Regions from separate parts of the Homo sapiens genome. Here region 2 is linked to region 1. Evidence: fine-mapped expression QTL. A gene starts in region 1. The other region holds a variant in brackets. All regions are shown on one strand. Distances are from middle to middle. Region 1 holds the start of SUSD2 (sushi domain containing 2). Region 2 overlaps CABIN1 (calcineurin binding protein 1).

The links.
Region 2: its variant is fine-mapped to the expression of SUSD2 in Th2 cells (Schmiedel 2018, PIP 0.95).

What each region holds. Positions count from the first base shown.
Region 1 is chr22:24,180,262-24,183,158 of GRCh38, forward strand. SUSD2 (sushi domain containing 2) reads left to right here and starts at 1,226. Exons shown (of 15, transcript NM_019601.4): 1 at 1,226-1,334; 2 at 2,796-2,897. The coding sequence starts at 1,259.
Region 2 is chr22:24,088,870-24,091,766 of GRCh38, forward strand. It overlaps CABIN1 (calcineurin binding protein 1), which reads left to right. Exons shown (of 37, transcript NM_012295.4): 24 at 2,714-2,897. Among named protein-coding and RNA genes, the nearest start is that of CABIN1, 79 kb to the left of the region's middle. RefSeq lists an enhancer at 2,406-2,897. The variant AT/A (reference allele first, on the strand shown) is at 1,648.

The DNA.
Region 1 (2,897 bases):
ATGCGGGTGTGGCTTCCCTGGAACAGCTCTGTGTGGGGACTCAGGAGCCAAGTCCCCCAGCACACGCCTCTAACACTTTCAGTAGGGGCCACCTCTCTGGAGCCACGGGTGGCTGCCAACACCCTGTGGTTCCCAGCAGGCACCACCCAGGCAAGAGAGAGAACAGGCCGGGGAACAATGGGCTGGCCTGGCCGCAAGCGCTGGGGCAGATCACAGACCGGATGGCCTAAGCTCATGCCCTGGGGCCACCTCTGACTCCCTGCAAGTGTGGCAAGGGTCCCTTTTGGACACCTTGAGAAGCTGCAGCTGGGAGAGGACCACCCGCCTGTCTGGATGTCCAGCCCAGGTGTCAGGGTCCAAATGACCAGTCCCAGGCCGCAGCCCTTACCACCCGCCCTGGCTGCAGGGGCTCCCAGAAGCCACCAAGGGCCTGGCTCGGCCTTGCCTATCCGCATCTGAGCTTCAGTTTCCTCATCTGCTCAAGAAGGGAGGTGAATACTGATTAAATTATGCAAACTCTTAGCGGCAGGATTAGGTGTGGCTGGGACAGCCAAGGCTCCCCAGGGTGGTGGCATCTCTGGAGCCCGGGGATGGGCCCTGTCTCCCTTCCGGGCCCCCCGCTGGGCTTGGGTACCTTCTCTCCCCTTCCTCCTTCCTCCCTCCAGAGGGGACCCCTGCAGAGCTGCCTCCGCCCCAGGGCTCAGCCTGTGTCTGACCCAAACAGCTCCTGCCTCCCCCTGAGGATGAGTTGGGTGCACCTCCTTCCTGCAGGAAGATGAGGGCTAGAGATGGAGGTCTATGTCAGGGCCACAGAGTCTGGAATCCTCCCTGGAGCTAAAACAGCCCTGCCTTATTCACCCTGCGCATCCCATCCTCTGCTTCAGCCCCGCCGGGCTCGCCCTGCATGCAAGGCGGGGCTGGGACCCAGGGTCTGAGCTTCGCCCTCTGGACATCCGGCTCATCGCCTGCCAAAGGTCCTGTGGCTGGAGGCTCCGGCCTCCTCACCCTCCCACAGGGTCCCAGGGCCGATCCAGGCCTGCGGGCCAGGAATGTGCTAACGGGGCAACTTGGGCCTTGCTGGTCCACGCAGGCACCTGTGGACTTTGAGAGGGGACTGGGTGGGGAGGGGCGGGGAGGGGCGGGGCGGGGCGGTGCCGCAGAGTGCAGGGCGGGCGGGGCCAGGCCAGCAGGGAGTGAGCTTGTCTGGCCGCCTCGCCTCGGAGCCACTGCACTGCTGGCTGCAGACACAGGCTGCACCATGAAGCCAGCCCTCCTGCCCTGGGCCCTGCTGCTGCTGGCGACAGCCCTCGGCCCGGGCCCCGGACCCACAGCAGGTATGCCTCCCTGCCCTTCTGTGTCCCCGTCTGTCTGTCCATCTGTCTGCAGCCAGGCCTGGGCTGACATCCCTCTGGGCTCAGCCTCTGTCCATCTGTCAGGCCATCTGTGGCTGTGCTAGGGGTGATGGGAAGAAATTCTGAGGGTCCATGTGGAGGGGCAGCCCATGGGGATGGGAGGTCTGAGCCGGGCCCACCCTAAACCTGCTGGTAGCTAGGAGGGAGGCGGGGGAGACCAGCAGAGGCCTCCGCCTGTGTCCCCAGCCCTGACAGGGCGGGATCACGGAGGGGGAGCCAGGATTGTGGGTCCTCATCAGGGTGGGGCTGAATCCAGGAAAGTCTAGGGAAAGCCCCGAACTCCAGAACCAGGACACTGGTCCCAGGCTGCCCCCCGTCCCCCACCCCATTTCCCATCGACCCTCTTGCCACTTATCTCACTTGCAAGCATCTCTCGGCCTCCTCCCCCGACCCCTGTGCGCCACCAAATCCTTGGCCAGTACATATTTATTGTTGCTTTTAAGTGCCAGGCACTGCACTTGGTGAAGTGGGGCCAGCGGGGTGGCTCAGGCCCAGGCCTGGCCCTCGACTGGCCTCTTTTGATGGGGGATGGGGAAGGGCCAGGGAAGTGCAATTCCAGCCTGGGTGCATGCACCTGCCCCAGTCCCTCCCTGCAACCCTTCCTTCATGCCAGCCCCTGGAAATATGGCCTTGCCCACCGGTCTTATGGCCCATAGGAGAAGTTTTGGGCCCGGCGCCCACAGCCCCTTGTGGTGTGCACCCCCACTTCCCTTTCCCCACTGCTGGGACCCCTGCTTGAAATGTCCCTCCTCTCCCCAGAAAGGAGGGGAGCGGCCCTGGCCTTCTGCCCTGAGCACGGAGCTCTCTTTGGGGTCTCAATTGCAGCCCCTGGGAGAGCGAGAAGTGTCACGTTCAGACCCTGCACCATTCCCTACCAGGCCTCAAATGAGACTCTTGGCAGCCATATCCCCCACCCCAGTCCAGGCAAGCAAGAGGGGTTCTTCTGCAGGCTTCAGGGCCCCCAGAAGGCGTGCTGACCACAGACACCCTGGGGAGCCAAGAGAGGTCGAGGGCTCCAGCTACCGTGGCCCACTGAGGACCCCTGCCTGTGGGATAGAGGACTTGGTGGCTGAAGGGCAGTCATGCCCAGGGGCTTCTCCTGACCCTGCAGGGCTGAGCGGATGCAGCTTTTTGCCTCTTCTCGCTGCATTCTAGCCCGTCAGTCAGGGCAACAGCCAGATGGTCTGTGCTAAGATTCATCCCATCCCCACGGGCCCTGTGGCTTTCTACTGTGTCCACCTGGTGGCCTGTGCAGTTCCTGGCCAGCGTTCTCCTGGGGATGCTGCTGTCTAATGGGCTGTGGGAGAAACAGAGACAGGCCCTGCACATGGGGCAGCCAGTCCAGTACCCGCCGGGCCAGGCCCTCAGCATCCTCTCCTCCAGATGCCCAAGAGAGCTGCTCCATGCGCTGTGGCGCCCTGGACGGGCCATGTTCCTGCCACCCGACGTGCTCTGGCCTTGGCACCTGCTGCTTGGATTTCCGGG
Region 2 (2,897 bases), 91 kb before region 1:
ATCCATGATAATTCCTGTGGATCTAGTACATTCCTTTTAACTGCTGTAACCCTATTTTATTGTAACTGTTCTGCACTAAAGTCCCTTGCGGGATTCTGTTTGTGTTGCAGTGGCCCCAGAGTTGGGCAGGCTGGGGACTGAAGCTGCTGCCCTAGGATGCAGAGCCTGACTCCCCAAGAGGCCTTCCTTGTAACAGCAGGAGCACCATTATCCTCTGCTGGGGCTCAGTGGGCTGAGCTGATCATGGTTCTTGGGATTTTCTCCCTAATCTCCCACCAATGATGGCAAATGAGATTTGGCAGAGTGGGAGTTTTCCAGGAAATAAATAGGGTGAGAAGTCAGAGTTCCCTTTCTGCCATTGGCACTTGTTTGTAGAGCTTTGTTTGTAGAGGTTCCCCCAGGAAGGGAGCAGGGAAGTCAGGGAGTGGGTAAGGAGACTGAGCTCAAGTTTCCACATACTTTTTCCCTTTGCTTTGTTCTTTCCTCTACTTAGGCTCATAACCTTTGGGACTGAACTCAGTGTTGATCTTATGGAAGCCATTGGCCCAGGAAGCTCAGGTCCTGAAACTGGGTTCCCAAGCCATCTTGTTGGAGTGTTAGGGTGGCAGGAGAGAGATGGAAATCCACCAGGAATGCAGATGTCCCGACAGGGAGGGAGGGAAGGTAGGGGGAGGTGTTTCATAGTTGCCGAGGGTGAAAACTACCTTGCAGAGCTGCCTTGTGCCTCCTGGGTTTTTTCCACCTCTGGAGAGACAGCTTCCAACCCTGAAATGTGTCACGAGGACACAGTCCCCTGATTGCTACTTTTCTGTCTGGATTTATTGTGTCTGGAGGATGGGCTGCAGGACACATGTTGGCAGCTGTTCGAGCTGCTGTGTGCTTCAGCTTTTGCCCAGAAACTCCTCAGAGGTGGTGGTGTAGGAGAACAAATGCTTTCCCCATGATGTCAGTTCTCAGGCAAGGGGAAAGGCTTTGGAGCCAGAGCGTTCTAGCTGTATGACCTGGAAGCAGTAACCTGACATTCCTGTTGTGGTTCCTTCTCCAAGGCAGTATTGTGAGAGTTCATTGGGAACACCTGCCATCAGCCATTTCCTGAGCCCCTCTCATGGGCACCCCATATGCAAGGTGAATGAGGTGCCTATTCTGCTCTGAGGATGGCAAGGTAGTGAGATGGTGTCTAGTAGAGCTTCTGAAACACAGCAGGCCCTCAGTGACTGTCCCTCCTTTTCCTGTCTGAGGTATTGTGACCTCCACACCACAAGGACAGGGACATTGGCATTGTGCCCTGTATGGGGAAGGGGTGGGGGCTTAGCCTCTTCCCAAGGGTCTGCATGGTACCAGATGCCAGCCCAGATGGGCCACTTCACAGCTACCCTTTCTTTCTTGGCAGGTGGCTGTTACAGGTGCCAGTGGCAGAACAGGGTGGGCAGGGGGGCTAGTGACTTGGTCCAGGTCACACAGCTACAAAGCAATTCAAGTAGAAGGACATCCTTTTAGCCATTGCCTTTTACTTCAGCACATTTGCCACAGAATCCCATCTTGAAGGGGATGTGATGGAGTCACTTGGTTGGTCCCGTGTTTGACCCTGCACTGTGATGCTTTCCACTGTATTTCACCCATTGATGATCTCCCACTTCCTGTGTGGTC[AT/A]TTTTTTTTTTTTTTTTTTTTCCTGAGAAGTGTCTAACAGAGCACTGGGTAGCACATTGCTCCCTTATTTCAGTCCTGGGGCCATTGCTACAGGGTTTTCACATAAACAAGCACCCACTGGAGAGACATCCAAGGGCCGGCTCAACCTGGCTGGATGAGAACATGAGGCACTTCCTGCAGGCCACAGCAGCTGCCCTTGCCAGAGACTAGTGCCTGCAGACTCATCCCCTCTCACTGGCCCCTGAGGTCAGGCAAGAAGAGACTTTGGCTTCCCTGCTATCAATCCAGGACCACAGAGAGGAGGGATCAGAGACCTGGGCTGCTCAGAGCAGCTCTGTGGGCTTGCACATGCAGGCTTCTCTCTAGCTTCCAGCCCAGAGTTCTGGAATCAGGGGTCATGAATTTGGCTGGCAGCTGACCAGTATTGGAAAGTAGTGCCTCTTAAAAGGTGACCCTCTTTTCCTTCCTTCCTAGCTAGCTGTTTCCTTCCTTCAGGCTGTGAGAGGGTGGCTGGAGGTGCTTGCTGCAAATGCAGACTCCCAGTCAGTGGCTCTTAAGTGGGGCTCAGGAATTTGCCCTTCTACAAGTACTCCACATCTGTCTTAAAGAGCACAGAGGAGATGGTGGGAAGTCCTCTTGTACCCCAGGGGTACACACCCTCTCCTGTGCAGTGGAACTGGGTGCTAAATACATGCCCTCTTCAGTGCCGTAGGGCTGGGTGCTGAGTGTTAGTAAATGTCCTCTCCAGTGCTGTGGAGCAGGGTGCTAGGTGAATCTGCATTAGATGCTGCAGGGGGAAAGCAGAAAAAAGTACCCTGGTTGACATGGGGTGACCTGAGTTTAAGTCCTGCTCTATGCCTTGCTTGGTGGGCGCTTTTGAGAAACCCCTAGGCCTTTCTACACTTCGGTGTCACCAGCTGTGAAATGGTGAGGGCATTTCTGTGTCTTGGTTGTTAAGAGGAGTATAAACTTGCAAATAGGTCGGCAGAGCTTTGTACAGGAAAAAGTCTGATCCCTGGGCAGGTTCAGGCGTAAGGCCAGCCCAGTCTCATGATCTTCTTACAGATGGAGGGCCGGCGCGACAGCATGCTAGAGACAGCCAAGCACTGTTTCACATCAGCAGCCCGCTGCGAGGGTGATGGTGACGAGGAGGAGTGGCTCATCCACTACATGCTGGGCAAGGTGGCTGAGAAGCAGCAGCAGCCACCCACCGTTTACTTGCTGCACTACAGGCAGGCTGGCCACTACC